Regions from separate parts of the Homo sapiens genome. Here all the other regions are linked to region 2. The links come from fine-mapping of genetic effects on gene expression. A gene starts in region 2. Each other region holds a variant in brackets. All regions are shown on one strand. Distances are from middle to middle. Region 1 holds the start of AGGF1 (angiogenic factor with G-patch and FHA domains 1). Region 2 holds the start of ZBED3 (zinc finger BED-type containing 3). Region 3 overlaps AGGF1 (angiogenic factor with G-patch and FHA domains 1). Region 4 overlaps AGGF1 (angiogenic factor with G-patch and FHA domains 1).

The links.
Region 1: its variant is fine-mapped to the expression of ZBED3 in whole blood (TOPMed, PIP above 0.99).
Region 3: its variant is fine-mapped to the expression of ZBED3 in monocytes (Fairfax 2014, PIP 0.95).
Region 4: its variant is fine-mapped to the expression of ZBED3 in blood mononuclear cells (TOPMed, PIP above 0.99). The same link has a PIP of 0.9 or more in monocytes and whole blood.

The regions. Positions count from the first base shown.
Region 1 is chr5:77,026,950-77,035,152 of GRCh38, forward strand. AGGF1 (angiogenic factor with G-patch and FHA domains 1) reads left to right here and starts at 3,455. Exons shown (of 14, transcript NM_018046.5): 1 at 3,455-4,027; 2 at 7,469-7,571. The coding sequence starts at 3,818. RefSeq lists enhancers at 3,113-3,692, 3,332-3,681, 3,693-4,272. The variant T/TA (reference allele first, on the strand shown) is at 4,170.
Region 2 is chr5:77,082,891-77,091,093 of GRCh38, forward strand. ZBED3 (zinc finger BED-type containing 3) reads right to left here and starts at 4,395. Exons shown (of 3, transcript NM_032367.4): 1 at 4,221-4,395. ZBED3-AS1 (ZBED3 antisense RNA 1) reads left to right here and starts at 3,825. Exons shown (of 3, transcript NR_182763.1): 1 at 3,825-4,729. It also overlaps a transcript of PDE8B not described here. RefSeq lists enhancers at 4,053-4,654, 4,655-5,257, 5,258-5,858 and a silencer at 4,067-4,236.
Region 3 is chr5:77,038,489-77,046,691 of GRCh38, forward strand. AGGF1 (angiogenic factor with G-patch and FHA domains 1) reads left to right here. Exons shown (of 14, transcript NM_018046.5): 5 at 1,043-1,231; 6 at 7,859-8,189. Among named protein-coding and RNA genes, the nearest start is that of AGGF1, 12 kb to the left of the region's middle. The variant A/T (reference allele first, on the strand shown) is at 3,301.
Region 4 is chr5:77,062,746-77,070,948 of GRCh38, forward strand. AGGF1 (angiogenic factor with G-patch and FHA domains 1) reads left to right here. Exons shown (of 14, transcript NM_018046.5): 14 at 307-2,489. The coding sequence ends at 507. Among named protein-coding and RNA genes, the nearest start is that of SNORA47, 14 kb to the right of the region's middle. The variant T/C (reference allele first, on the strand shown) is at 4,505.

The DNA.
Region 1 (8,203 bases), 56 kb before region 2:
TAATCAGAGGAGTATCAATTAAAACAGCAAGGAAATAGCTCATTATATTCATAATGGCAAAAAGTACAAAAAATGGTTCATATCATTTATTGGAGAGGATGTGGGAAAAAAACATTACAAAACAAAATCAAATCGTGAAGGGTGTCAAGTAGAATGCTTTTTTAGGGCAGCGCCTCTGCCCACTATGCTAAGTACCTCTTAGATCTGAAAACTAGGTGTGGCAAAGACTGCTATTTACATACTCAACATGAATTTTGCCCTTCTTCCTTACTTGTAGAACCCCTATATTATTAGGAGAATAATGCGTCTAGCTTAGAAAAACACACATATACACATAATTCCCAGCCCCACTTGCAGCAAGGGGTGGCTATTGATAGGTAGACAGGAACCATTGAGTGGGGCTTTGGGAAAGTCCTTTCATCCCTTGCCATCTTGCACCATGGATCGACCTGGAGGCTCTGGAAACATGCTCCGAGAATAGCAGAGCAGAAAGACATACCGAGCCTGGGTCCCTGAAGAACTGTGGAGTCACTGGCCATGGACTGCCCCTCTCTAGGCTTCTGTAATGTAACAGGATAACACCCTAATTTGTTTAATAAGCCACTATAGACCACCTCTGATACTAGCACCTTAATGCAATTCCTGATATTCAAGGCTTTTTCTAAAAAAATGTCATTCTTTTCTAATGGTCAGAGGTAGGATACAGACTGGTATTACAAGGTAAAGATAACTTAGCCTTGAACAGATTAAGACAAATAAGAGGAGCACTGCTTCAAGTAGCAGTCAATAAGCTTATTTATTTTTTCTCCAGTTAATTACTAAAAACTGAAATATCATCTTAAAGATACCTTTCAAATGGTATTTATGGAATTTCTTATCCCCTAAAGAAAATAGGTGGAGAAAGTAGAAAATAGCATCTTTTTAAAAGGACTTCAATATGTTCATTAATGGAGTCATAATGCATCAAGGGAAGTCAGAAATTTTTTGCAATACATCTTTTTTTTTGCATCACAGGGGACATACCATGTCTTCTCACTAAACTTCCTTTGATGGCTTAAGGTTACTCTTGACATGACAATAAGGTAGAATCTCTATGTTTCCAGATACAGTGCCTTGTGAAGAACTCTTCAGGCCTAAGGAGGAATGTGTACAGGCCCTAGAGAGGGCAGGTCTCTGCTGGAAAGCTCACTGTTTATGAATAATCTAGTGGGCAGTGCACAAGACAAAAATACATACAGAGCCATATTTTAAAATTTAGATTTTATTATTATTTATGTATGGTGAGGCCAACAGATCAGGAGATGGTCTGCTATCAAAAAGACAGTTTATTATTCACCCAGCCCAAGAGGAGGATGCACACCAAGCCACACAAGGCAATGTGGAGAAGCACCAAGGTCCAAAGGAGGCAGAAGGAGTGGGAGGAAACATGGCAAAAAACATTATGTGATTTTTGCAGGAAGGAATGGACAAATCAGGATAAGCAGGTTTAGTTTGCATAATTTCAGTGGGATCTGAGATGTAGGAGTTGTTCCTAGTTGTCTGGTACTTTGCCCTGGAGTGATTAGGGCAGGGGAATATTGGCATGGAGTGTAACAGCCTGATAAAGAAGGTAGATGATCAGTGTGTGGCATGCTGGGTGAGTTGTTTGCTATGTCTAGGAATTAGCTAACCCTTGGAGGGGTTATCTCCCTGGTCAGGGAGACCCCAGATGCCAGAGCATCAAGAATACAAAAAATAAGAAAATATAGTTAATGGAAGTGGCCACTGATCTAAGACACCAAACAGGATTCTCTTGTTCAGCTGTGTTCAGCATTTACGGATACTGCTCTGCGACAGGCACTGTGCTGGGCCCTGAGAGAGGAGCATCTGCATGACACAGCTGCTGACCTCCACAAATCTCAGGCCCAGGACTCTGAGCTCATGATCTAATTCTAAATGACTTTGGCAAAGGAAGGAAGTGTGTTCCAAAGAAGGCCACATCAGTTTAAATATTGGCAAACCAATGCCAGGGTCATGCAGACAAAAGACCAAATAAATGCACCAAACCAGAGCATTTTTCTCCCCTTTTCCACAGAATATTGTCTCTCTCTTATTTTCCCACCAGGGATGCTCCTTTTTGCGACTCAGACCTAATGTACTTGCTCTATTTTCCCGGGGGGTCTAAACTCAGGAACCAGAAGAATGACTAAATGAGAAATAAAAGTAAAATTCTGAGCCCCTGAACTGACTGAATAGACCCATTGTTCACTACATAGAAAGCCAGTCATTGAGACAAGGAGTATTGCCAGGGAAGAAGGTTCTATTTGGGTGCTGCAGCCAAGGAGAATAGGAAATCAGTCTCAAATCCATCTCCTCAACCAACTAAAATTAGAGGTTTATATGGCAAGGGAGAAATGTGACTACATGTGAGAAAACAGGAATTAGTGAGCGGTAAGGATGAGGACTTGTTCAACAGGCAGCAGGTGGCTGGTTAGGCAATCATGATGGGTGAGGGGTATGGTGCCTCATTGTCCAGATGCAGTGATCTGGTAAGTTTCAATTCCTTGATACTATCTGGGAGGCCTCATGGTTGGTTTCCCAAGAAAGGAACTCAGATAAGAAAGATGTAACTTTCTGAAGTTTTAAGACTGGGAGGGTAAATTTCCAGGTTTATTCAAAAGAAACCATAAACATCAGTTCTATAGGACAGTTGGGCTGATTTCACACCAACCAGCATTCCTTCCTGATAAGAGACCACCAACCACAGAGAAGTTCTGGCCAATCTACCAGGGACTCACAGCGAGGGTTTTCATGTCCTCTGCTTTGCCATTTGACATCAGAGGGCTGAAAACTTCACACTGGGATCATGCTAACACCACCATTTTTTGAATATGGGTCCCATAGAGAGGCAGGAAGCTTAATTGTGCATGTGCATATTTCTCCTTTCATAAATATTCATGAATCCTCCTACAGCTCATTGAATATATTTGGCCACCCTGCTCAGCATAAATTTCTGTTCCCTTTGTCCTTCCTTCCAAGTGTCTGTTCTCAGCTTCTGACCAGAGGCTATGCTTCCAAGCCTGTCAGAAAGGCCACCCTGCAGGCTGTAACCCTTCATGAGAAATAAAGCCCTTTTCTAAATTTATTAACCTCCTCATTCTTCAGTTGACATAAGTAGAGCATCATAGTCCCCACAAATCATTTCTGGGATACTCTGTTCTTATTTGTAAAACAAGGAGATAGGAAATGCATGCTATACTAAAAGTTTGTTCAAAGAACATCCGCACGTGCAAATGTCTGAGACCAGAGGCTGCAAGCCTCCCTGTCGCTCTTAGGGCTTCGGTAGCCACATTGCCACAGCTCTCCACGCCCTCAGGTAACGCCCCTCCGCAGGCCGAGACGTCGGCACGTACACTGTCAGGTCTTCCCGCTTTCCGTCGCTTCCTGTTCCGTCTTGGTCCCGCCTGCCGCTGGCGCCGTTGTTTCCGGCTCAACTGGGGAGCTGCTGGAGCTCTTCTGGCCTCTGGTTTTCCGACTGCTTATCCGACGCTCCTCCCTCTGTCTCTGTAGCTGGAGAAGGTAGTTTCCAGGAAAGTTTTCCGGTTTGCAGGCCGCGCACATCGGGCAGGGGCCATCCTCGGTCCCCTTGCTCGTTGCTCGCAGCCCCGTTCGGCTACAAGTGAGTTTCAGGGCGTCATGGCCAGGGGCCACCGCGGCCAGCCGGGTGTGAGGCTGCCTTTCGCTGCCCGCGCGCTCCAGTGGTCTCTGGGTCCGCCGGCGTCCGTTTCGGCCTGAACGCAGCCCCTCCGCGGCGACGAGCAGTCTCGCGCCGGAGCTCATGGCCTCGGAGGCGCCGTCCCCGCCGCGGTCGCCGCCGCCGCCCACCTCCCCCGAGCCTGAGCTGGCCCAGCTAAGGCGGAAGGTGGAGAAGTTGGAACGTGAACTGCGGAGCTGCAAGCGGCAGGTGCGGGAGATCGAGAAGCTGCTGCATCACACAGAACGGCTGTACCAGAACGCAGAAAGCAACAACCAGGAGCTCCGCACGCAGGTGCGCGGTCCTCCTCAGCCCCGCGCCCCATCCAGCCCAGGCGAGGCCTTCGAAGCCCGTGATAGCCTCGGAAGGGGTCCCTGGCAGGGGCTCAGAACTACTGTAGAGTACTTAAAGTAAATAAGTAGAAGCTCAGCGCAGT[T/TA]ACAATTCCAAGTACCTTAGGAGCAAACCTGAGTTCAGGTTACTTGATTTAAATCAATGTCTCGCGGCTGGCGTGAATTGAACTTAAGTACTGTGGCTACATTGTCTTCATTCTCACTTGACCTAACATCCCATTGGCAGTAGGCGCATTTACTGTAGATCACATTTGAGTTTATTAAAATGCTGGACTTGAGTCAGAATCCCATCTCTGCTATTCACTGGGTGTGTGAACTTATATACCGAGTCTCAGTTCCCCATTAAATGAGAATGATAGCTCACAGTAGTAAAGGTGAAGTAAAACAAACAATTTTACAAACTTTTGAATGCTATACCTGTTTAAGGTTGCTCTTCTGGGCGTTTATCATCTTCGGCTTTCTTGTGTAAGTAGGGACGATATATAACTGCTTTTGTTGGAGACGTTAAGCAGCTTATTTCGTTTCCAAGATGGTAGGGGCAAATGTTAATACTTAAACTGTCACATTAAAAACAACCTTGGCTGGACGCGGTAGCTCACGCCTGTAATCCCAGCACTTTGGGAGGCCGAGGCGGGCAGATCACCAGGTCAGGAGTTCGAGAGCAGTCTGGCCAGCATGGTGAAATACAAAATTTAGCCGGGCGTCTCTACTAAATACAAAAATTAGCCGGGCGTGGCGGCGGGCACCTGGAATCGCAGCTAGTCGGGAGGCTGAGGCAGGAGAATTGCTTGAACCTAGGTGGTGGAGGTTGCAGTGAGCCGAGATCGTGCCACTGCACTCCAGCCAGGGCGACAGAGTGCAACTCTGTCTCAAAATAAAAACCAAAAAACCAAGAGCATAGTATTTTTTTCTACCTTGTTGGCAGGCCCTCTCTGCCAACAGATTATTTCCACATAGTAACTAGTTTCAATTTGACCGTTGTCTAGTCCTTCATAATTTATTGGTGGTTTCCTAAAACCAGTATATAGGCTGAACACTGAAACGTCATCAGACTTCTTTGTTTTGTTACCAAATGGACTATGAAAATAACTGTTGAGTTGCAATGACTTTGTATGACCATTACATGGAGTTCCTGACATGACATTATTGGAAAGTTTTTGTTTAGTCAATTTAAACACCTACGGTGTGTAATAACTATGCTAGGAAAATACAAATATGGTAAAAAAAAAAAAAAAAAAAAAACAGGGAGAGGTGGCTGGGCGCGGTGGCTCACGCCTGTAATCCTAGCACTTTGGGAGGCCGAGGCGGGCGAATCACGAGGTCAGAAGATCGAGACCATCCTGGCTAACACAGTAAAACCCTGTCTCTAGTAAAAATACAAAAAAAATTAGCCGAGCGTGGTGGCGGGCGCCTGTAGTCCCAGCTACAGGCTGAGGCAGGAGAATGGCGTGAACCCGGGAGGCGGAGCTTGCAGTGAGCCGAGATTGCGCCACTGCACTCCAGCCTGGGCGACAAAGCAAGACTCCGTCTCAAAAAAAAAAAAAAAAAAAAAAATGGGGAGACGGGAGCAAAATATAACAGCCTTTTTTACATGACAGCCTTTTGAAAAGCTCCTTTATAATTCTAAATTGTTGAAGTACTGCTTGCGTTAGAGATTCTAAAAGAAAACGTTTTTTGCTAATCTTCAGAGAGCCAGCATTTTGGTGTTACTGTTAATTTGATAAATCAGACTAAATGATGGGACTTTGTGAACAGATCCTTTATTTCTTACAGAAAAGAATGTTTTTATGCTAATATTTTGAGAGGTCAGCAATTCTCCCTAAAGAATTAGAAAATTTAAGAGCTATCAATTCCCATTCATGTTATCTAATATCATTCAATGTTCACGTGGATTTAGTTATTAAATGTTAATGCCTCTTATAAGCTTTAATACACTTTAAAAAAATAGTAGTTCTGTGACTAAACTGCAGCAGAAGCGAACAGAAGGTAATTGCCTGAGAGGATCATCTGTCCTCCACATGCCTCCATTTTAGTCCAATATTAAAAATTTAATCTCATAGAAAGTCTTGACTCTACTTTGAATAGTGATAACTCCTTACTCTCCTAGTCAGCCTCCCTTGGTTGGGGAGAGGGTGGATTCGATTAACTGTCATTCCAAATTACTGAATGTGTTTTATTTGGAGCAGTTAAAAAGTTTTGCTTGAGAATGATAACTGGAGAACCATAATATGTATAGGGTTTGTACAAGACCCCAAAATAGCCTTGTGCAAATTACTTTGTCTTGTCTGATATTTTATGTGTAAAATTGGGGTTAGGACAACGAATATTTCAGGTGGTTTTGTGAATTAATGAGATGTTATCTAAAGCATCAAGTATAGTGCCCAGCATGTAGTAGATACTAAGTAATCTAATTCATAGTGATAGGGACAGTAGCCAGAGCCAGGATTTAGGGCAAGGCAATCAGGCTCCTAGGGCGAGGAATTTAATGGGGCACTAATTCCCAGCGATGAACTCTGTACTTGCATGAATCAGAGGAGCGCCTCAGATTTTTCACGATCAGTGTCTTGCTTCCCTCACTGTAGTTCCTGCCCTAGTATTAGCAACAGATCAGTTTTATCACCTTTCTCTGTTTAAGCTTTATGTATCATTAAATAAATATTTAAAAGCTTGTTTTTTAGTTGGTTTCTTGTGTGTAGTAGACATTGTCTCACATTGAGGTCCTCTCAGGCTGAGGTGTATTGACTGAGGCAGCGTATTGACCGAGGCAGCATGTTACTTGCTTTTGGGCACTTCCACACACTTGTTTCTCTCTGTCCTATGTAGTAGCATCCTTTTAAGGGTATTTTAGTGTGTGAAGTACATGGAGGACAGATGCCCCTCTCAGGCCGTCACCTTCCCTGTTCTCTTCTGCTACAGTTACTTAATTATAGGACTACTGTTTAATGAAAAAATGTATTAAAGCTTGTAAGTGGCATTAACATATTCAGGTGGATAGTTAATTCCCAGTGGAGAATACCAAATGAGTATTAGATAATCCAGTAGGGATGAGAATTTGTAAATTTTGAATTTTTGAATTCTTTAGAACTGACTTTAAAATGTTAACATAAAAGCATTCTTATTTGTTAGAAATAAAGGACCTTGTTCACAAAGTCTCATTATTTAGTTCGATTTTTGGAGGAGATATTTGGACATTTAGTAAGAGAGATTAGGAATAAAAATGCCTTTTAAATGTATAAAGTAAAATAATAATTTTAGCTTTTCTGAAAGGGAAACTTGCTGCTCTTGACATTTCTCTAAAACAATTATTTGTAACGGTAGGAGACTGGTATATATATTATTAGATTGTTACATGATTTCTTTTTCCTAAAGCCTTGTTTTCTCTCAGGTGGAAGAACTCAGTAAAATACTCCAACGTGGGAGAAATGAAGATAATAAAAAGTCTGATGTAGAAGTACAAACAGAGAACCATGCTCCTTGGTCAATCTCAGGTATTTAGCTTATAGTGAGGATATGCTAACACTGTTACATTCAAATCATGCTAATGTTGCGTTTTCTTTTAATTTAAAATAAACAAAGATCAAGGTAAATGAGAATTGTTAATACTGTTGACGTCTCTCCATATGATAATGGTATTTTCGGATAATCAATTTGTTCTTCTGGAGGAAAAAGTAGAAATGTATTGTCATTCCTGTGATTTCTATAATGTTGCTAATGTTTTCAGTGGCACACTCACTGAGTAATTTTTGGCAGGCAGTTAGCCATCTACTTCCATATCTGCCTTCCTTGTGACCAGGGGCATTTGTTTTCTTGTTGATGTGTTCTAATTAGAATTATGTATAGTATCAGTCTCTCACCCTTGTGGGAATGGTGAGCCCACCACCATGGCCTTATGAATGGCATTATGTTATAAGGCAAAATAGCTGAGATACTGAGTTTTAATATATATGTGTCACAAGAAGAAATCATCTTTCCTATTAAGTTTTGCCTTGCTTCAGTCAGGACATAATTTTTGGCTAAATTGCTAAACATAGCAATAGTGCTAACTTTTCTTATCTGCATGATACGTTTTAAAAAGTCTGCATGGGGAGAGAAATTTGCCAAAAAATAAATCAATCCCTAA
Region 2 (8,203 bases):
TTTGGGAGGCCAAGGCAGGTAGATCACCTGAGGTCAGGAGTTCAAGACCAGCCTGGCCAACATGGTGAAACCCCGTCTCTACTAAAAATACAAAAAATTAGCTAGGCGTGGTGGTGGGTGCCTGTAGTCCCAGCTACTCGGGAGGCTGAGGCAGGAGAATCGCTTGAACCTGGGAGGCGGAGGTTGCAGTGAGCCGAGATTGCACGATTGTACTCCAGCCTGGGTAGTAAGAGCGAAACTCCATCTCAGAAAAACAAAAAACAAAAACAAAAAAGCAAAACAACCCTTGGCTCCTCAAGCATGTGAGCTCAGGCAGGGCCAGCCCAGCCTTAACTGTGGAGGCTGGTGGGACAGTCCCATGGGGAAGCCCACTGCTGCGCCGCTTGGAGGAGGAAACCCAGCATGTGAGGCTGCTCATTGTCACGTGGTTTGCTGTGCTCTGCAGAAGGAGATTCTGTGTTCACACCCAGGATGTCATGGAAGAGGAGCTCATCCCATTCATCTCCCTGGCACAGGGTAGACACTTGGGGGATGCTGCATTAAGTGAAGTGAACCTGACTCTGTTTCTTTAGCCCCAGCCCACCCGAGTCTCAATCTTCCCATCTGTCAAGAGAAATAATAAGATTATTTGCCTCTAAACAGGTGGCTGAGATCATAGATAGTGCAAATGATGTCACTGTTGGACTCTCCGGTGTTATATAAATTTAAGACATGAACAATAAAGAAACTACCGATATTTACTGCTCAGACATGCCCACGTTAAGATTTTAATGGCTAAAAGGCAGTTGTTTTTCCATCTGACATTATGTTATTCAACAGAGTAAGTAGTCTAAGTTGGAGGAATCCCCTTGGGAATTGACTACAAAGAGCAAATAAAAAAGAGTAACAGATCCAAGACCCTTACCCCTTAAATTTATTTTCACTTCCTAAATTGAACTTCATGCAAAATAGGTTATTTATCACTAGGGTAAAATAAGATAATGGGGAGGTTTAATTAGCCAAAGCCCTGTGATAACGCGTTTCTTCCTTACCAAATACCCAATGAGAATGCATATCATTAATTCTGTGGTTAGCTAATAAGAAAATGAAAAAAGCTCCCTTAATTTTTCCTTGAAAAAATTTTTAAACTAACACAAAGATGCCAATGAATGAGTATTTTGCTTACATCCATTCACTCCATCCAACTCTCATTCAAATGCTCATTGTGCACCTGCTAAGGTCAGGTGCGTGCTTTCTGCCAAGCATTCCAAGAGGAACGTCACATAGTCTTTGCCCTCAGGAAGCGTACGGTCTGGTTGGGAAAGAGATGCTTCCAACAATAATTCTGATACCTGTGTGATATGGTTTGGCTGTGTCCCCACCCAAATCTCATCCTGAATCCTACTCCCATAATTCCCACGTGTTGTGGGATGGAACTGGTGAGAGATAATTGAATCACGAGCGCGGTTTCTCCCATACTGTTCTTGTGCTAGTGAATAAATCTCACGAGATCTGATGGTTTTATAAACGAGAAGCCCTTTTCGCTTGACCCTCATTATAGCTCATGCCGCAGCCAGGTAAGAAGTGCCTTTCGCCTTCCGCCTTCCGCCATGACTGTTAGGCCTCCCTAGCCACGTGGAACTTTAAGTCCATTAAACGTCTTTCTTTTATAAATTGCCCAGTCTTGGGTATGTCTTTATCAGCAGCGCGAAAACAGATTACTAACACACTGTGGTAAAGGTGAAATCAGTGCTCACTCCTTCGGGTGAATTCCGTCACATAATCTCCACTGGGGAAGGGGTGGGCATGGGCAGCTCCTGGGAGCTGATGTCTTAGGGGCCCTAACACAAAAGTTCATGCAGTTCAGCATCCCTTCCCCTCCCATGCCCCACAGGGCACAAACGCATTGTTGTCCATCACCAAAACACATTACCCTTAGTACTCGACTCTAATGAAGTTCCAGTTCCTCAGTTGTATAACGAGGCTTCCAAGCTCCTATTTTAAAAGAAAGTTTCTTGAAGCTAAATAAAAGCACTGCTAACATGAAATTAACAGTGGAAATTTTTGAGTGTAATTTCAGGGTGAAAAAAACTGAAAAGACAAATGTAGATTTTAGATATTTCAAGGAAGGAGAGAGAGTAGTGTTGCTGGTACCATGCCTCTGCACTTGCTATAGCTGAGTTTCATTTGAGTATCCATTATTTGGAAGGAGTTCTTAAATCTAAGCCTGTGGAAGACAATAAATTCACATTAATTATCTCTCCATTTGACTCAATTTCTGAAGAAGTTCTATCCTTCTGATGAACTATCAGATTAAATCCCAGATTCCTCAGTATGATGTCCCTGAATACCAATATAAAGAATAAAGGAAGAGATCAAAACCTGGATGAATAATCTGTATAAACATGGGCATATACACAAGGTATGACTATAATATTGAGACTCATCCTATAAAGCACCTACAAAAGTTGATTGTATTATTTTATACTTATGCTTGTGCACATAAAAAATATTTGGCAGGCTAAAGGCCAAAGAACCAGGCACTGTTCTCAAAAGGACATAGCAGATTAACTACACCTCTATTTGTCCTTCTATACTCAAGGCTACTTACTGTAGTTGGGTTGACCAGGCAGAGTTTAAATCAATATATGTTGGTTGAGCCTGGATCTTAGATGAGAAATTCACACTAACGTGAAATTCACACAGACATATGTGGAAACACTAAAAACATTTTCTTTTACTTCATCCACCAGTGACTTTAATGAAAGCAGAGCATAATAATTAATACAAGTAATTAGAGTTGACAACTGAAGTGTCAAGAAAACCACAGTTCATCTGTTATCCGTCCATCTCTGTTGAAATATTAGTTTACTGCCATATATTAATCTATTTATAAAGAGATCCAGACAATTAGAAAAATTAGTCTGGAATCACCAGGCTGAAGGCTTAGCTGAAGTTAAAAGACAAGTAAAAATGCCTCCAAACTGTAAAACCTGAGTTGGGGAATAAATGGTAAAATGTGTAAAAATTTAGAAAAAGGTTATATGTGGACTGTAAAAAATACACTGGACTCACAGGTAATTAAGGGGTGAATCAGAGTTGTTTCCTAAATGGCATAAGCCAAACTCTTAGATATTTCTACCATTAGCTAAAAGGCAGAGAAGCACTCTCTCTCTCTATTAATGCACTTTTAAAAATGAAAATTGTGAAGTGTTCTGCCCTTAAAGTGGACCTTTATTTCAGGTCTGCATTACTTTGCTTAATAGATATGGTCCTAAAGATTAAGGTGGTGATCCATTTTATCTTGTAAAAATGCATAATTTAATCTGAGTTATAGGAATTTAAAGCTGCCCTACTTTGAAGGCCTTTGTGACTCAAAGATTTTTTTAATTTAATTTTTAAATTGAGAATTACCTGGCTTGGGCTTTTGGTCTTTTTATAATACGTATTGCTGTCTACTTTTTTTTTTATTCTTGGCTGCCTCAAGCTATTCTTGCCTCCAAAAGGTGTCAGCATATGAATAAAAACAGCAGAAAATAATTACCCTAATTAGGTCAATGTATTAAGCTGTTTCTACAACTGTTTCTCTTAAACACCTTATCTTTGTAGTCTTGGCTCATTAGAAATTCGACTAGTGGTAAGTATTTATTTTTTTCCTTCAAGGGGGTTTTTGCTTTGCTAAGCCTCGGGCATTTGGTTCGTGCAAGAAATCACAGAAACTGCTCCAGCGGACTCCGAAAGGAGCGGAAAATTCTTTTGTTTGGGGGCCATGAGGGGTGGGGGAGGGGTGGGGATTCTGGTGTAAGCTTTTGGCTTGCATTCGCTTTCTCCCTCCGAAAGTGGGCGACATCAAGCAAGTCCCAGTTACAGAAAGAACCCACTGCAGGGCGTCCAGTCACTTGCCCAGTGAAAAGACTGTAATCAGACAACTTTAATAAAGGGAGAGCAGGAGAGTGGTGACGAATTTCCACATTCCGAACAAGCTTGTCGAAAGAGGAGTGCAGGGAAGGAGCAAGAATGAGGCACTGGAAGACGGTGAGCGGGGCCTTGCCACAGAATCCCGGGCCCACCTGCTTTCTCACAGTCGCGACAGCCGGCCCGGAGAAGGGCAGCCCAGCGAAGGGCACGCCCCGCGCGGGTGCCAGGGAGGCCGGCAGGGGCGTCCGCGGTCGCTGCTCACCTGCGCTCCCCGCTGCCCGGCCCAGCCCGCCTCGCCACCGAGTCTGGAAGCCCACACTCACCCCTTTACCCGGGAAACGCGGCCGGAGCCGGCGGCGGGTCGGGAGTCCGAGATGGTAGATCCCCCTCCAGGCGCCTCGCTGACATTTTGTCCCGGACGGAAAACCTCCGCGCGTGCCCCTTAAAGACACAGCGCTGCATTCACACGTCTGCGGGGAAAGGGGGGCCGTCACGTGTGGCCTTCGCCCGAAAGCGGTAGGGGAGTCGCTCTGAAACCGCCAAGGATCGCGAGCGACAGATTTGTGTTGGCCAGGGTTTTAAGATGACGCAATAGCTGAGTGTGGTTGAAATGTAACTATTGTTTTACAACTTTGCATTAACCTTCCAAGACCTGAATTCCCGGGCCTGAGTCTCAGAGCGCGGTTTGCATCTTTGCAGGCTGTAGGCGCATGATGTCACAAGTTATTGGAAGAAATCCCTCCAACCTAGGTTGGGACAGATGAAGGCGGCGCTTATTGGTGTTCACCAAAACACCAGCATGGTGTACCAGCTTTGGCTAGATGATGCTCAGGTAACGAACAACCCCTGCAACTCAGTGGCTTAAAGGTCCATTTCTCAAGCGAATTACTGTGGCTGCAGGGAGCTTTGGCAGTACTCCACCAGTTTTCTTCACTCCAGGCTGAAAGGTCAACTTTTCTGGGCCATGCTCCCTGCTGGGCTGGTAAACCAACTTTGAGGGAGAAGGGGGAAGTCCAGATATGTAGTGTTTGCTATTTCTATGATGTAAATGCTCCCACAATGGCCGATTTCAAGCTACAAACAGTCCAACAAGTGGCTTGCCAAGTTCCTGGAAATTTAACAATTAGCTCCTGTACATGACTGGCACAAGCTGCTTTCCAAACTCACATTCCGCATGCCTCAGTTCTGCTCACTTTCTATTGGTCAAAACTTGCTGTCAGTGGGTGGGGAAGTGTACCCCTCTCTTAAGGAAGCCTTGCAAGTCTTGTGACAATGAAACAGGAGAGTTCCCTGATTTCCTCCCGGCCCCCGCCCTCCCACAGCCCTTTGCAGGACGTGCAACAGGGTTGTGGCTCGTGTGTTCGGTCTCTGCCTGCTGAAACCCCTTATGGGAGGTGGAGCATGCAGACGGACGGGTGCAGGAGCCAGGGTGCAAAAGCTGGGGCGCTGGGCTTCCAGCCCCACGGCAGTGTCCAGGGGCAGGATCCCGTGATTCCCGGAGCCCAAATGGGCGTGTGTTACAGTGTGCTCTTTTAGCCTTACCATCAGCTGACGGCTTAAGTGTTAACCAGCTCAATAGACCCTCTGCCTTTTTGCAAGCGCAGAGGGTCAGTGTGACAGTTTCTGTATCTCAGCTCTTGTCTCACCTCCCAGAAGAATCAGGTCACACATGGACTTGAAGGATGGTGAGTGCCGGGGTGGGGGCGGGGGTAGAGGAGTTGGGGGAAGGTTGGGGGTGTTTATTAGGTGGTAGGGGTGGCACTCAGTAGGATGGATGGGGAGCTGGAAAGGGGGTGGAGTAGGGAGATGATCTTCCCCTGGAGTTTAACCGTCCAGCGGTGGATTCTCTAACTGTCCCCAGCTGAACTCCACCCAATATTCCTTCTCTTTTCTCTTTATCTGCGGCTCTTCTGCTCTTCTGCTCTTCTGTTCATCTGCTCATCTTTTGCTGCTGGAGCCTGGTGTCTGGAGTTTATACGGGTACAGGATAGGGGGTCATGGAGGGCCAAAAGGTAACTTTTGGGCACAAGAACGGGAATGCCTCTCTTCATTTAGGGCCATGGGTTTCCAGGCTTGAGGGTGGGGCCTTTGCCAGGGAACGGCCTTATTCTACCCAGTAGTTCCCTGTCTACTGTCCCTATCAACAATAAGTGAGCTGAATAATATCCTTAAAAGAAGAACAAGAAATAACTGGGTACAATAATACAATCCACCATTCCAATAATGGTTTTGGAGGAAGAAACTGGTTGGGTATCTTCAAAGGCAGAGGTCCCCAACCCCGGGCCATGAACCAGTACCCTTTGTACCCTGTTAGGAACCTGGTGGCACAGCAGGAGTTGAGTAAGGGGCAAGCAAATGAGGGAAGCTTCATCTGTATTTACATCCGCTCCCCATGACTAGCATTGCCGCCTGAGCTCCACCTCCTGTCACATCAGCTGGGGCATTAGATTCTCATAGGAGCACAATTGTGAACTGTGCACATTCAAGGGATCTAGGTTGTGTGCCCCTTGTGAGAATCTAATGCCTGATGATCTGTCACTATCTCCTGTCACCCCCAGACGGGCCTGTCTAATTGCAGGAAAACAAACTCAGGGCTCCCACTGATTCTACATTACGGTGAGTTGTATAACTATTTCATTATATATTACAATGTAATAATAATAGAAATAAAGTGCACAATAAATATGATGCGCTTGAATCATCCCAAACCTATTCCCCACCCCTGTCCATGGAAAAATTGTCTTCCACGAAACCAGTCCCTGGTGCCAAAAAGGTTGGGGATTGCTGTTCAAAGGGATAATTTTGCAATGTGAAGGCCAACTATTAGGTTACTACTTTTCTTCTGGCCCAAAGGACACTTACAGCTACGGACATCTGATAAAAAGAAAAGTAATGAGTACACTGTTGGTGGGAATGTATAGCCATACACCCATTATGGAAAACAGTATGGCGGCTTCTCAGAAAACTAAAGATAGAACTATCATATGATCCATCAATTCCACCACTGGTTATTTATCCAAAGGAAAGGAAATCAGTGTATCAAAGGGATTCTTGTACTCCCGTTTATAGCCACACTATTCACAATAGCCAAGATACAAAATCAACCAAAGTCTATCAACAGATCAGTAAAGAAAATATGATATATATACACAATGGAACACTATTCAGCCATAAAAAAGAATGAAATCCTGTCATTTGCAGCAACATGCAGGGAACTAGAGGCCATCTTGTTAAGTGAAATAAATCAGACACAGAAAGGCAAAAATCACATGTTCACACTCATATGTGGGAGCTAAAGAAGTTGATCTCATGGAGGTAGAGAGCAGAAGGGTGTAGAGGTGGGGGAGTGAAGACAGGTTGGTGAATGGGTACAAGCAAACAGATAAGATGGAATAAGTTCTAGTTTTTGATAACACGGAAGGGTGACTGTATTTCCAAAGAGAAGATTTTTTTCTTTTTTTCTTTTTTTTGAGACGGAGTCTTGCTCTGTCGCCCAGGCTGGAGTGCAGTGGCACGATCTCGGCTCACTGCAAGCTCCGCCTCCCGGGAGCTTGTGTGGAGCTAGTGTTTTTATTCATGCCATTCTCCTGCCTCAGCCTTCTGAGTAGCTGGGACTAAGGGAACTACAGGCGCCCGCCACCACACCCATTAATTTTTTTGTATTTTTAGTAGAGACGGGGTTTCACTGTGTTAGCCAGTATGGTCTCGATCTCCTGACCTTGTGATACACCCGCCTCAACCTCCCAAAGTGCTGGGATTACAGGCGTGAGCCACCGCACCCAGCCGAAGAGAAGATTTTTTTTCTATGAGTTTGACTTTAATTTCTAAGATTCCACATATATATGAGATCATGCAGTATTTGTCTTTCTGTGTCTGGCTTATTTCACTTAGCATACTCTTCTCTAAGACATCCATGTTGTTGCAAATGGTAAGAGTTCCTTTTTCTTTAAGGCTGAATAATATCCGTGTGTGTGTGTGTGTGTATGTGTGAATACACACCACAGTTTCTTTTTTTATTCATCAGTTGATGGACACTTAGATTGTTACCATATCTTTTGGCTTCTGTAAATAATGCTGCAATTAACATGGGACTGCAGATACTTCTTGGAGATAGTATTTTTATTTCTTTTGGAAATATACCCAATAGTAGTATTAGTGGATCATATGGTAGTTCTATTTTTAATTTTTTGAGGAACCTCTCTATACTATTTTCAATAATGGCTGCACCAATTGACATTTCCACCAATAGGGTACAAGCATCCCCATTTCTCTAATCTTCACCAATACTTGCTGTCTTTTGACTTTT
Region 3 (8,203 bases), 44 kb before region 2:
ATATTTTGGACTGATAAACAGATTTAAAAGGTTTGAATTATAAAAGTTCCATTATTACTAGAAATAAAGATTGGAAAGCCTCCACTCAGTTTCTTAGTTAAGAGAAAGATGGTGAGAAATCTAAATATTTTTTGTAAGAGATCTGCAAAATGCATGGATTAAAGACAATAAATTGCAAGTGTCAATAGTTAGAAAAATAAATTATTCTTTTTCAGGAAGTTTTAGTTGCTCAATCTCAGTACATTAAAGATGTTTCCGGGTCTGGTCTGCATGGATTTAGGATGTAAATAAAATATAGACTGTTCAATTAAATTTGGTTTTAGAGTACTGGCCAGTATATCATAAATATAGGTGATTACCTAATTTTATCTTTCTGGTTTTTAAATCTGTAATTTGCCAAATTCATTTATGCATGGTTGCTTGTAAGTCTTATTTACTATAGAACTGATTAATTAGTGGAGACAGTTTATTGATTGCATTTTATAGAATGTTATTTTTTGGTATGCATGAACTTTATTTTCAAAATTTTCTTCTCTAATTTTAAGTTATGAACATCAAAAGACAAATCTTTGTTTTATGACATTGAGAGGAGGGTTTAGGGGTTTATACTGCCACACCATTATTGTGCAGTCATTAAGAATCAGGAGTCTAGAATTGCGCTCATATGGTCAGCTTTTTCTTATGCTTGCTTTAGTTTTCATGCCTTTAAAAGTATTATCAATTTTTTTAATGTATTAAGTGGAACCATATGAAATTGCTGTTTCTTATAAGTTAAAAGTGGTCAAGTATTGACAATTTTATATGATTAAATTTAATATTTAGATTTACTTGTTTCTCACACTAGGAAAATTAGATCAGTTATTGAATGGTAAAGTATTTTGGAAGATTAAAGCATTTTTTATTGTTATCTTTAATTCATTGTCTTCTGAAAATACTATAGTTGTTCAAAGAAATATTTACCACATTTGAATGTATTTGGCATTTTCGTTAAGTTTATTTTATCTTACATGAATAGAATTTATTTTTTTCTTGACTTTCAAAGGAAAATCAACTCTATTATGATCCTTCCACTGGAATTTATTACTATTGTGATGTGGAAAGTGGTCGTTATCAGTTTCATTCTCGAGTAGATTTGCAACCTTATCCGACTTCTAGCACAAAACAAAGTAAAGATAAAAAATTGAAGAAGAAAAGAAAAGATCCAGATTCTTCTGCAACAAATGAGGAAAAGGTAATGTCTTTACAATTTTAAAAATTGACATAATGGTGATAACATGATAATTAAGACAAAATTTTTTATGAAACTGACAATCATTCAATAACTCTGCATTTCAAACATACCCATTAAGATAACCTAGGAAAGTTTAGATGGAGCAAACATGGACTTTTTCATAAACTCTGTCACTAGAAATAGAAAGCATTTCTTAAAATTTGAAGGAGATAGATTAAGGTCAGATAAAATATCTCGTATATAGTTTGGAAGAAGAATTCAGATCCTCAGTTGATAAGTTGATGTCAATGCACAGTTCATAATAAAAGATAAACACAGTTTATAGGTAGACATAGATACAGGTTCAACTTTCTTAGTTATGTGGAGCAATTTTTTACTTACTAGGACAATTTTTTTTTTTTTTTTTGAGACAGAGTTTCACTCTTGTTGCCCGGGCTGGAATGCAATGGCGTGATCTCAGCTCACCGCAACCTCCGCCTCCCAGGTTCAAGTGATTCTCCTGCCTCAGCCTCCCGAGTAGCTGGGATTACAGGCATGCACCAACACGTCTGGCTAATTTTTTTGTAATCTTAGTAGAGACGGGGCTTCTCCATGTGGTCAGGCTCGTCTCGAACTCCTGACCTCAGCTGATCCTCCTGCCTCTGCCTCCCAAAGTGCTGAGATTACAGGCATGAGCCACCGCACCCGGCCAGGAAAATATTAAAAAAAAAAAAAAAATCCATTGCTGACAACTGTGGAGTGAGATAACATATTTATTAGGATTAATAGTTTAAATGGCCTGCAAGACAATGGTTAAGAAAGCGATAGTTACATTTAATTTAAAAAAGTATTATGTAGGCTTTCAGATGGTACTTGTAAAGACTAAGGGGAACCCCAAAAATGCTTATGATGATGCAATGTTAAATTGAAAGAAGGAAAATATAAAAAGTTAACAGTGTTCTTTATTTCTACTCTCTAAACAGGTAAGTTTGGTGGTTTATAGGTTATAAAGGAGGCTTGTTTGTTTTATTGATATTTTATGAACTGTGGCAACTATTTGATATCTTACTCTTGAAATTTTATCTCATGGTTTCCTGTCCTGTCCTTTCCTGTCCTATCTCTGTCCTGTCTTGTCCTTCTGTCCTGTCCTGTTCTGTCCTTCTGTCCTGTCCTGTTCTTTTTTGAGACAGGGTCTTGCTCTGTCACCCAGGTTGAGTGCAGTGGTGCCATCATGGCTCACTGCATCCTCGACCTCCTGAGCTCAAGTGATCTGCCTACCTCAGCCTCCCAAAGTGCTGGGATTATAGGCGTGAGCCACTGTGCCAGCCAGTTTTTCTTTTCTTAACCAAAGAAAAATTACTTGATACTAAATTGTAAAGTTCACATAAGGAATTAGGATTCTGTTAGATTTTTTCTGTTCTCCTATTTGATTTGCTTCTGTTCTATTTTTTTGTGAACAATACTTAGGAATAGAAGAGTATGTGACTAAAATACTAAAAATCAGTTTTCTGTTTGCTTTCAAGATCTCTGTTTTAATGGCTTGTGCTTGTTACTAGTGGTTTGATTGTTTGAAAGGCTAGGTTGTAGGTCGGGTGTGATGGCTTATGCCTGTAATCCCAGCAATTTGGGAGGCCGAGGCAGGCGGGTTGCCTGAGGTCAGGAGTTCAAGACCAGCCTGGCCAACATGGTGAATCCCCGTCTCTACTAAAAATACAAAAATTAGCCAGGTGTGGTGGCAGATGCCTGTAATCCCAGCTGCTTGGGAGGCTGAGGCAGGAGAATCGCTTGAACCTGGGAGGCGGAGGTTGCAGTGAGCCAGGATCGCACCACCACACTGCAGCCTGGGCAACAGAGCGAGACTCCATCTCAAAAAAAAAAAAAAAAAAAAGAAGAAGGCTAGGTTGTGAAAGCACCTCTCCCTAACAATAGAAGAAGAATATGTAGGGCTCCTCAAATGGCCTTGCCTGAAAAACTAGAGAATAGACATGGAAAGCATTCTGTGATATTTTGGTCCAGCCTCGCTCCCATAACTACTCATCTTTGCCATTCTTCTTTGAAAATGTGCGAATTCCAAGACAAGAACTTTTTTT[A/T]TTTATTTATTTATTTATTTATTTATTTTTAATTTATTTTTTTATTGATAATTCTTGGGTGTTTCTCACAGAGGGGGATTTGGCAGGGTCATGGGACAATAGTGGAGGGAAGGTCAGCAGATAAACAAGTGAACAAAGGTCTCTGGTTTTCCTAGGCAGAGGACCCTGCGGCCTTCCGCAGTGTTTGTGTCCCTGGGTACTTGAGATTAGGGAGTGGTGATGACTCTTAACGAGCATGCTGCCTTCAAGCATCTGTTTAACAAAGCACATCTTGCACCACCCTTAATCCTTTTAACCCTGAGTGGACACAGCACATGTTTCAGAGAGCACAGGGTTGGGGGTAAGGTCACAGATCAACAGGATCCCAAGGCAGAGGAATTTTTCTTAGTGCAGAACAAAATGAAGTCTCCCATGTCTACTTCTTTCTACACAGACACGGCAACCATCCGATTTCTCAATCTTTTCCCCACCTTTCCCGCCTTTCTATTCCACAAAGCCGCCATTGTCATCCTGGCCCGTTCTCAATGAGCTGTTGGGCACACCTCCCAGACGGGGTGGTGGCCGGGCAGAGGGGCTCCTCACTTCCCAGTAGGGGCGGCCGGGCAGAGGCGCCCCTCACCTCCCGGACAGGGCGGCTGGCTGGGCGGGGGGGCTGACCCCCCCCACCTCCCTCCCGGACGGGGCGGCTGGCCGGGCGGGGGGCTGACCCCCCCCACCTCCCTCCCGGACGGGGCGGCTGGCCGGGCAGAGGCGCCCCTCACCTCCCGGACGGGGCGGCTGGCCGGGCGGGGGGGCTGACCCCCCCCCACCTCCCTCCCGGACGTGGCGGCTGGCCGGGCGGGGGGCTGACCCCCCCACCTCCATCCCGGACGGGGCGGCTGGCTGGGCAGAGGGGCTCCTCACTTCCCAGTAGGGGCGGCCGGGCAGAGGCGCCCCTCACCTCCCGGACGGGGCGGCTGGCCGGGCAGGGGGGCTGACCCCCCCCACCTCCCTCCCGGACGGGGCGGCTGGCCGGGCGGGGGCTGACCCCCCCACCTCCCTCCCGGGCGGGGCGGCTGGCCGGGCGGGGGGCCGACACCCCCACCTCCCTCCCGGGCGGGGCGGCTGGCCGGGCGGGGGGCCGACACCCCCACCTCCCTCCCGGGCGGGGCGGCTGGCCGGGCGGGGGGCCGACCCCCCCACCTCCCTCCCGGACGGGGCGGCTGGCCGGGCGGGGGGCCGACCCCCCCACCTCCCTCCCGGACGGGGCGGCTGGCCGGGCAGAGGGGCTCCTCACTTCCCAGTAGGGGCGGCCGGGCAGAGGCGCCCCTCACCTCCCAGACGGGGCGGCTGGCCGGGCGGAGGGCTGACCCCCCCACCTCCCTCCCGGACAGGGCGGCTGGCCGGGCGGGGGGCTGACCCCCCCACCTCCCTCCCGGACGGGGCGGCTGGCTGGGCAGAGGGGCTCCTCACTTCCCAGTAGGGGCGGCCGGGCAGAGGCGCCCCTCACCTCCCAGACGGGGCGGCTGGCCGGGCGGAGGGCTGACCCCCCCACCTCCCTCCCGGACAGGGCGGCTGGCCGGGCGGGGGTCTGACCCCCCCACCTCCCTCCCGGACGGGGCGGCTGGCCGGGCAGAGGGGCTCCTCACTTCCCAGTAGGGGCGGCCGGGCAGAGGCGCCCCTCACCTCCCAGACGGGGCGGTTGGCCGGGCGGAGGGCTGACCCCCCCACCTCCCTCCCGGACGGGGCGGCTGGCCGGGCGGGGGGCTGACCCCCCCACCTCCCTCCCGGACGGCACGGCTGGCCAGGCGGGGGGCTGACCCCCCCCCCCCCGGATGGCACGGCTGGCCGGGCGGGGGGGCTGACCCCCCACCTCCCTCCCGGATGGGGCGGCTGGCCGGGCGGGGGGCTGATCCCCCCCACCTCCCTCCCGGACGGGGTGGCTGCCGGGCGGAGACGCTCCTCACTTCCCAGATGGGGTGGCTGCCGGGCGGAGAGGCTCCTCACTTCTCAGAGTGGGCAGCTGCCGGGCGGAGGGGCTCCTCACTTCTCAGACGGGGTGGTTGCCAGGCAGAGGGTCTCCTCACTTCTCAGACGGGGCGGCCGGGCAGAGACGCTCGTCACCTCCCAGACGGGGTCTCGGCCGGGCAGAGGCGCTCCTCACATCCCAGATGGGGCGGCGGGGCAGAGGCGCTCCCCACATCTCAGACAATGGGCGGCCGGGCAGAGACGCTCCTCACTTCCTAGATGTGATGGCGGCTGGGAAGAGACGCTCCTCACTTCCTAGATGGGATGGCGGCCGGGCGGAGACGCTCCTCACTTTCCAGACTGGGCAGCCAGGCAGAGGGGCTCCTCACATCCCAGACGATGGGCGGCCAGGCAGAGACACTCCTCACTTCCCAGACAGGGTGGCGGCCGGGCAGAGGCTGCAATCTCGGCACTTTGGGAGGCCAGGGCAGGCGGCTGGGAGGTGTAGGTTGTAGTGAGCCGAGATCACGCCACTGCACTCCAGCCTGGGCACCATTGAGCACTCGACAAGAACTTTTAAGAAAAATCCTGTTGGAATTTTGAGAATTTCCTGAGGATTCTAAAAGGTACCTGTGAGGCCAAGAGAGTATCTTCATCTGTTTTCTTTATTTTTAAAGATATTTTTGAGCCTCACTTTTTGTAGGTGAAGGTTATGTGGAAGGAAGACAGTAGGGGAGATAGGAGTAAATAATTTGAAATATACATATGTGCCTCAGTGCCCATAAATAAGCCCTCCTTTCTTTTCACTTAATGACTATCTAATGTTCTGTACTGGCAAATAGCTTTCCCTGCATATGTTGTTCAGTAAGTAATAAATATACAAGATTGGAAACTGCTTTTTTAAGAGTATATACAGATAGGGAACTTTTTTGCTATAATTTTATAATGTAAAAGCTCCTCATGGTTTTTCAGCTCCTTGCCCTTGTTCTTGTTCTGGGTGAATTTGTATTGCTAGAAGTGTGTATAATTTATCACACTGTGAATGTTTAGCCAGTCTCCAAGCTGAACTTACGCTGTTATCAAAGATAGGTATGTGAGGTGGATGGATCATGAGGTCAAGAGATCGAGACCAGTCTGGCCAACATGGTGAAACCCCATCTCTACTAAAAATAAAAAAATTACCTGGGTATGGTGGTGCGCATGCCTGTAGTCCCAGCTACTCGGGAGGCTGAGGCAGTAGAATCTCTTGAACCTGGGAGGTGGAGGTTGGAGCGAGCCGAGATCGCGCCACTGCACTCCAGCCTGGGCGACAGAGCGAGACTCCGTCTCAAAAAAAAAAAAAAAGAAAGAAAGGTGTGTGAGATGCTCTCATATTTTATAAAATAACAGAAGAGCATATGAATTCGCCTCATGTTGCTCTGAGGTAGAAAGAAAAGTGAGAGTGCGTTAGAAACCAAGGGAAAAAAATGGAAAATAATTATTTACTTTTTCTAAGGCTGAAATGATAGATTTGACCATTGTATAACACGGTGACTATTGTTAATAACAATGTGTTGTATTATTGCAAACTGCTGAGAGCAAATTTTAAGTTTCTTACCACAGAAAAATAAGTATTTGAGGTAATGTACATGTTAATTAGCTCAATTTAACCACTGTACATTGTGTACGTATTTCAAAACTTCATGTTGTACATGATAAAAATACATCATTTTTGTTAATTAAAAAATGTTCATTTATTATAAGGCATATCAACTATAAATGTACAATAAATAATAAAAGACTTATGCCAGGCAAGTTAAAATTTTGGAATAAGATAGTCACAGTTAATTTGTACTTTAAACTTTTATGTATTATCAAGCTGAATCTGAAGTACTAAATTTTAGCAAAACTACAATTTTGCTACATATTGAGTACATTTGGATCTTTAAATTCATGTCATAAGTAAAGCTAATTCTGTATTTTATTTGTGTTGACTAGCTAATTGATTACCAGTTTAAAAAGAAAATTTAGAATAGGTATTCTTTAGGCCTGCACTATCCAGTAAGGTAGCCAGCAGCTCCATGTGGCTGTTGAGCACTTGAAGTTTTGCTAATCCAAACTCAAATGTGCTGTTAAGTGTAAAATACACTCTGGATGTTGCAGACTATGTAAACTATCTCATTAATAATTTTACTTTTTAAATGTGGCTACTAGAAAATGTAAAAGTACAAATATGGTTTGTGTTACATTTTTATTGGACACCATTGGTCTAGGCTATCCCATAGTCCAGGCAGTATGTGATGAGGGCCTGAACTAGGAATGTTAAGACATTGAGAATAGAGAGACAGATTTGGATATATTTTGAGAAAAGTCTGTAGCACTTCGTAATTTTATATATGGTTAAGGGGATCTCAGAGATAACTATAGGATTTTTAATTTGGATAATAAGAAGATGGTAATATCATTAACCAAGAAAGGAAATGTGAGAAGGAGAGGGGGAACAGATTGTAACCATTGTTATTTTACTGACACATATCTTCACGAATTCGTTGAAACTTGATGTAATGTTATAAGATAGTGATGTTTAAGAGTATTCTCCCCTGTTCCCTCGTATCTACCCACCCTTCTCCAGGATTTGAACTCAGAGGATCAAAAAGCCTTCAGTGTTGAACATACAAGCTGCAATGAGGAAGAAAATTTCGCAAATATGAAAAAGAAGGCCAAAATAGGCATTCATCACAAAAATAGTCCCCCCAAAGTCACTGTTCCAACTAGTGGAAATACTATAGAGTCTCCTCTTCATGAAAACATCTCTAATTCAACATCATTTAAAGATGAGAAAATCATGGAGACTGATAGTGAACCAGAGGAAGGTGAAATTACAGACTCTCAGACTGAGGATAGTTATGACGAAGCCATTACCAGTGAAGGCAATGTAACTGCAGAAGATAGTGAGGATGAAGGTGAGTAAATAATC
Region 4 (8,203 bases), 20 kb before region 2:
CTGGTTAGGGTGGAATGACATACTCTGCAGCATCTAAATGAAATTTGGTGATTGCTAGTTAAGGAGCACTCTATTTTCTGTAAAGTAGGCTGTACTTATTGACAAGGCAAGACAACATAGAAAAATGAATGTAAGTTCCATGTATAAAGGTATATATATTCCTGTATGTATTTGATGCATCTGACAGGTTTTTCTTTTGCATCAATCTTTAATAAATCAAAAAATTGTAGAGTCCTAAGTTGGACACAGCAGATTTCAATGTGTTTAGACTCTAAAATAAGTCCTCTGCTCAACTTTTGGTAACAGATCCAGCTTCAGCTTCGGCGAACACATGCAGGCTTGGGGACAGGCAAACCATCCTCATTTGAAGATGTTCACCTTCTCCAAAACAAGAACAAAAAAAACTGGGACAAAGCACGAGAGCGGTTTACTGAAAACTTCCCAGAAACTAAGCCTCAAAAAGATGACCCAGGGACCATGCCTTGGGTAAAAGGGACTTTAGAGTGAAGGCTAATCATAGAAAAAAAACCTCTAGTTTTTTTAAAAATAGAATTTGGAAACTTATTTTTTCTCCCCAAAAGAATCAGCAGCACAGGGGAACTATGTCACAGTTTACCTCTTCCTGATTCAGAAATGTGTATGGTTTGCAGCTTTTAAAAACCATTTTTTTAAAACTAATAAATAGTGACTGAACCAATTTATGCAGTAAATAGACTAAAGTTCACAGGGCACGGATGAGTTTATCAAACTTCGTTATTTTATCTTGTCATTTACAACATCCATATAAGCAACTAGCCATATAAGCAAAATTCATAGAACTACTAATGACTTAAGTGTACATCTGTTCTTGTCTCCATATATTCATGTAAGATGCACAACAAAAGAAACATCAGAAGTTTATAAAAATAAATCTGACTATATGCATCCTCATTTATTCCCTTTAGAACCTAGGTAAAAAATGTTGCGAAAACATGGGTAGTGGCGCATACATTTTGTTATCCTTGAAATAGCCTAAGTAATGTTATTGAAGAACTAATGAACAGGTAACATATTGTAGAAAATTAGTCTTTCATTGTTTTCTTCTGTGAAGAATCTGTTGCTATGTACTGTATATTCAGCATTTATATTTGGTTTGTTTCATAGCTAATGAGGTATTTAGATATGAACAACTGAATACATATTGAAATAGTGTGCTGGCTTTTGTAGTTTTGATAAAGACCATTGCAGGCAATGGAATTGTGCCAGAGAAATCTGATTTCTAGTACAAAAGGAATACTTAGCCAGGGCCTCAAGCTCAAGATACTTATTGAAAACATCCTCAATTGCAATAAAAACATTATAACATGAAAAAGAGTGATTTTTTGAACCGGTGATTTAAATGTATTGATCTGCTTTGAATTTTCAAGCAGCCAGAATTTTCTAGTTTAAATTGGCAGAGTTATAACAAAGGAGAGCCTCAAATATTAGACAATTGCAGTGCGGCTTTCTGGGCACAGGTGTCACTGCTCTGCCACCTATCACTATTCTTTTTCTGTTCAGTTTTTCTCTCAGGTGTTTGCTGGGAAATTAACACTGGAACTGACCCTTTTCTGGCAGTGAATGTAAGCTCTAGCTCCCCCATCTACTATAAAGAAATGTCTTCGAGATGTAGAAATAAGGAATATTCTGAAAATAAAAATTATACAGTAGTAAAGATAATTCAGAAAGAAAAAGCTACCTGTTAGAATTTCCAGTCTAAATGGCACAGGGTAGTTACGGAGAAAAGGGGATGGAGAAGGAGAAACTATGACTAAAGATGAGAGGTATGAACGAGTTGTCAGGTTCCTATGGGCTTAAGCTAGGACAATCAGGCCCTAAACTCCAAATTTGGATAAAATATCTCTTTGCATTCTTCTTGGCCACCTGCATAGTCTGACACATACGTATGTACAGTTAGACTTGCAGGCTGCAGGAGTGCCCTGCATTGTTTTCTTTTAATTAGAAATAAAAAGTATTAGTCTAAATGTGGTTCTGGTGCTGGTGCCCTGTATATATGTAACAATATAGGACCCCTCCAAATAGGTTTTGCTTCTGGTGAATCTTGGTCATTGGGTTAGTATATGACTGTCTATAATATTTTCCATTTGTATTATTATATTGGGGAAAACATTTTTTATCATTTTCTATTAAGAAAATGGAAAACTTAAATATGGTGTTAAAAATGGAAATATATGTGATATTTGCATTATTAAACCCCTTTGCAGATCTAAAGTCTCAGGGTTCCACTATTAGTGGTTAAAGTACTGAATAATGTCTGGGTCTATTTCCATCTGTAAAATAAGAATATTTGTCTCACGTGTCTGTCATGAATAGCAAATGAGAAAATGTATATAAAAGCACTTTGTAAATTGTAAAAGTAGTACAGATGTGAGCTTCTATTTGTTTAGAAGCATAAATGTGAATTATATACAGTTTGAATTTTGCATAAATTTTTTGTGTCTAATTTTAAATATTTGTTTAATCACACTACACATTTTCTGAGTAGCGTTTAAGTATGTATTTTAAGTGGAGCTGCAAGTTCTGAATTTTAAGAAATCTAACATCTAATATTTTTGCCAGAACATAAGCTGGCAAAGTTGAGAACAGAAGAAACTTTCAACATTAGAGTAAAATAGAAATTTTTTCCAGTATTAAATAGAGGAAGCACCCTTATCCTCAAAAAGAGGAACTTTTTTCTGCTTTTGAAACAAGTGTTACTTCTGATGTGTCATTTTTATCCTGCATTTATAGAACGTAATGGTTTACGCAAATCAAAAACCTTCTGACTTTCCATAGAATATTTTTAATTTTTTATGATTTTTATTTATTTATTTTTTTGAGACAGAATCTTGCTCTGTTGCCCAGACTAGAATGCAGTGGTGCAATCTCAGCTCACTGCAACCTCAACCTCCTGGGTTCAAGCGATTTTCGTGCCTCAGCCTCCCAAGTAGCTGGATTACAGGTGCATGCCAACATGCCTGGCTAATGTTTGTATTTTTAGTAGAGATGGGGTTTCACCATGTTGGCCAGGCTGGACTCCAACTCCTGACCTCAGGTGATCTGCCTGCCTCAGCCTCCCAAAGTGCTGGGATTACAGGCGTGCGTGAGCCACCATGCCTGTCCAAAAGATTATTTCTTAATTTGACATATTTTTAAAGAGCAGGCAAAGAAGATAGAAATCTCAAACAAGGGAAAGCAAGAGACGTTGGAGATTGCATACGAAGGCCATTCTGTAAAGTTGCAGGACAGAGGGATGTCCTTGGCAGGGGGCAAGAAAGCACTTGTGGACCCAAAACTCAAAGGCAGTCTCAGGAACAGTTGAAAGTATTTTCCCCACCATCTTGTTGTAAGTGTGCTTCTTTTATTAGGGCATAACTTATATTTCTGCTCTGAATCTTTGATTCAAACATTTCATTTTACTTTTTCAGCCTTTAAAGTGGAAATGGATTTTGATTCTTTAAAATGAGGCAGTGGTTACTTATATTTCTGTGTGTTTCAGGGCCCAGGCTATCTCTTCTGCTTTTCTGTTTTACTAATCTTAGTGTTGGCTTATGGCCTTGTAGTTGCAAAATGGCTTTTGAAATTTCAGACATCATATTCATACCTAAAGCAAGAAGAAAGAAGAAAGAGCAGAGTGTAGTGTTAGTTCTCTTTTTTTAGGAAAACAACAGCTTACTCAGAAACTGACTTCTTAGGGTCATTAGCCAGAACCAGATAGCATGGCTACCCATAGAAGAGATGCTATAAAAGTGGGTAACAAGATGGTCACATTTGGCTTAAGCCAGTCATGAACCATCACCTGCAGCTGAGAATGTTGCCGTTGGAATGAAATAGGTTCAGTGAACCAAGCAGAAGGGGGCAGTGGATGTTGAATGGGCAGGTAGAGGTAACTGCCAGATAACGTACTTGTCCATCAGTGGGGACTACAGGGTTGCTTAAATTGTGATGCATCCCTACTATGTAATACTTTCTGGCCATTGAAATGAATAAGATAGAACTGTGTATACCCTAGTGTAGAAGAATATCTCACAAAGCAGATTGTAGCAAAGTATATATGGCATAATCCCATTTTTATTTTTAAATTACAAAGGTGTGTATTGAGTTGCTGATAACCCAGAGTGAGCAGACTTTCACATTTTATTATTTCTATATTTGAACTTTTAAAAAGTAAACAGGTGTGTGGTTAATGTGTATGTATATACACACTTGTGGTAAGAATTTACCCAGAAGTGGTTAAATTTGTGGTTAAGCCTTCATGGCTCAAACCCAGGCATTTTTCTCACATATATACCCAGTTTCACTTACCATCTATAAACTCATGACTTCTAGGCTGTCTTAGGTTATTGATTCTGAGCTTATGACTTACATATCCATCTCAGAGTCACTTTAAATGCAACTCCAAGACTAACTCCATAATCTTCTCCAAACCTAGTCTCTTCTAGTTTACTCTCTCCAGCTGGTAACACCATCCATCCAGTTGTGTGAG[T/C]CAGAAGCCTGAGTCAGCCTCTGTTTCACAACCACTAGCTTTTCTCCCCTTTGTCTGTTTCCAATATATTAAATCAGTTCACTGTTACCAGTCACCAAAATTATTCTGAGGGCTTCCTAACTGGTCTTCCTGCAGGCATTCTTTCCTCCATCTTCCACACTGCAGACAACTTCCATCTCATCGTCTCCTGTTTGGCTTCCCATTACTTTGAGGCCATAAAACAAACTCCAGGCCCATAAAACCCTAAGGGATCTGGCCACTGCCAGCTTTCCTGGTCTCATCTTTTGTCACTTTCCTACTTGTTCTCTGGGCCCTAGCATGCTGGCCCCTTTTTCAGTTTGTCAAACACAGCTGCCTTCTCTCATCACAGAGCCTCTTAACATTGTATTACATGTATGGAATGCTCTTCCTCCCCCATTTTACATAGTTAATTCTCACATAGTCTTCAGGTCTCTGCTGATTGAATCTTCAGGGATGCCTCCTTTGAAGCCCTGGACTAGATTAATTGCCTTTGATAAGTATTTTGAAAAACCATTTCTTTCATTTAGACCACTTAGCTTGGTTCACAGTTACATATTAGTGTGGTTAGTGTAATATTTCTCAGTTTCTCTAGATTGTTAAGTGCCATGTGAGCAGGACCTTGGGTATGCTTACTATTGCATCCGTAGAGCCTAGCACCACATCTGGTTTATACAACCATAGGCACTGAAGCACACAATGGGTAACTGCAAGTGGCTTGATGGAGTCTTATCAAGCTGTGACTGAAGAAACATGGGAACTGAGGCTACATAGAGGATCTACAACAATGGCTTTCAAACTATTTTGATGATGATCTACAATGTGAATACAATTTGTATTACAGTTCAGTACACGAGCATGTTCATAGCATATGTAACATAGATTTTGTATACCAGTACTTTGCCATAAGCTCATGTAATACACTCGTTTTCCACATCACTGATTGCATCCACTAAATTGCTTTCATAATGCACTAATGGGCTGTGTCCTACAATCAGATTTTCAAACCTTTTCAAAGAACCCATTGCATTGCCTTAGGAGCTGCAGCTGTGTGAGTCTATGTTTGTGTGATGAGGTGGGGAGAGTTTAGGATGCCAAACTGTGGTGACTCCAGTTCTCAGGCTCATTAACTACAATAGGTCTACATTCATCTGATTTGCAGTTCAAGCTTCCAGATAGGTTTGATTGCATAACAAAGAAGGGGTGAACAAAACCGAGCCTCTTACCTGTAGCCAAAACCGCATATTGTGTTGAGAAATTTACATAATTAAGAAATGAAGGATTTTATCTGTGAGACAATGAGGAATCCACTGAAGGATTTTAAGCAGGAAAGGAACCTCATTAGATTGCTTTATAGCAGAATAACTATGGTTGATTGAAAGGCAGAGTGGTGACTGGAAATCTTGAGTGTAGGTTGACCTCTTTGAGAGTTTGTTCAAATATTTATTGAGCATCCACCAAATGCTGTGCACATCTTGGAAGGCAGGAACCTTCTTTGTCTTATTCACTGCTCTGTCTTCAGCACCTAGCACAGGATTGGATGTTTGGGAGGTCCTCAATAAGCATTTGTTGGTGGAATGGATGGAATGCACATTTGTGTTGCATCTGGCACTGTGCTAGGCCCTTAACATACATTCTTTATTCTGGACACCATTTTATGAATTAGAAAACTGAGGCTTAAGAGGTTTTTATTTTGCTCAAAGTCAAAAAGCCGGTGTGACAGAAGTGGCAGGGCTGAGGTTTCTATCTTGATTCTTTCCATCCCACAGGGATGATTAAGAGCACAGGCTGAAGAGTCTGACTGAGCTGAGTTTAAATTAAAATTCTACCACTTCCAAGCTGAGTGACCTTTAAAAATTTATTTGAACCTCTCTACCCAAGTGTCTTCTATGGAGTTTGTAACTGCCCATCGGGTTCGCCTTGCCTGCTGCCCAGATAAAGCCGATTTATCAAGACAGGGGAATTGCAATAGAGAAAGAGTTTAATTCATGCAGAGCTGGCTAAGTGGGAGATGAGTTTTATTACTCAAATTGGTCTCCCTGAAAATGTGGAGACTGGGTTTTTTTTTTAAGGATAATTTGGCAGATGGGGGCTAGGATAGTGGGGAGTACTGATGGGTTTGGTCGGAGTTGAAATCATAGGGGGTCAAAGTGGGTTCTTCTTGCTGTCTTCTGTTCCTGGGTGAGCCAGGACTGGTTGAGCCAGATTATCAGTCTGGGTGGCTCCAGCTGGTGCATCAGAATGCAGGGTCTGAAAGATATCTCAACCACCAATCTTAGGTTTTACAATAGTGATTTTATCCCTAGGAGCAATTGGAGAGGTTCAAATCTTATGGCCTCTGGTTGCATAACTCCTAAACAATAATTTCTAATCTTGAGGCTAATTTGTTAGTCTTACAAAGGCAGTCTGGTCCCCAAGCAAGAAGGGGGTTTATTTCAAGAAAGGGTTGTTATCATCTTTGTTTTAAAGTTAAAATATAAACTAAGTTCCTCTAAAAGTTAGTTTGGTCTTTGCCGAGGAATGAACAAGGACAGCGTGGAGGATAGAAGCAAGACGGAGTCAGTTAGGTCAAATCTCTTTCACTGTCATAATTTTTGCAAAGGTGGTTTCAAGTTTTGGTGAAGATTAAATGAGATAAGGTTTGTGTGGCACTGAGCACACTGTCTGGTGCATAATAAGCCTCCAAATATTAGTGATTATTAGCATTGTTATTATCCATGCTAGCAATACCAAGGACATGGTTGTAGGAGTAGAATCCCAGAGTAGAGATGGTGGTTATGGAAGTCAGGTAGGATGAGGAATGAGGCTAGCAAGTAGTGGATGGGTCATCCTCATTCCACAAGGCAATAGGAGATAGATGTGGACAAGAAGACTGAGTCAGGAGCTGGCTTTCTAAGTGAATATTGGAGAATGAGGAGGAGATTGGTAGACAATAGTGAGAAAGGACAGAAGTTATTGTAGGTGACTCTCATCATCCTTAAAGGAGGAGGAATGGATTCTACATGACTTTGGAAATGGAGTCGTCTGGAGGAATGATAGGGAGATGTAGCCAGGCAACCCTGGCTCTCAGTACTCTATGGGAGCATGAGAGCTACAGGGAGAATTCCAAGAAGTAGATTTCCGGTCCCCATATGTAAAAATCTTTCAACAGCATACATTAATTCAGCAAATAGCCATGAAGCACGTAGCATAGGCCAGGCACTGTTCTAGGCACTAGGGATACAACAGTGAATAAAACAGTCAAGGCTCCCTGCCTTCATGGAGCTTACATTTATTTTTAGATAGGATTTGGCAGAATGTAAGGCCCAAGTAATACATGCAGGCCTTGATAGTTCCAGAGAGTATTAATCCAAAATAGTTTCTGTTCATTCCAAAGTCTTAAAGCCAACATTTTAAAGCAAAAATTTGGGTGGAGTGTGTGACGCGGGAAGGATTTGGGGCTTTTTTCTTAATGTTCTCAGACTGTTTCTAAACCAGATCTATTTAGGGGAATCTTATAAACTGTGCTTTCAAAATCTTTTTAGTCATGTGTTTGAGAGTTCTGGGTATGTAGACAACAGACCTCATTGAGGCTGCAGCCCCTTGTTCAATTATGTATCTCCTCTACCTGAGAATAATAACTGCCTGCCCAGACATCTGGGTTCTATGGTTCTAAATCTGAACACTAAGTACAGTCATGTA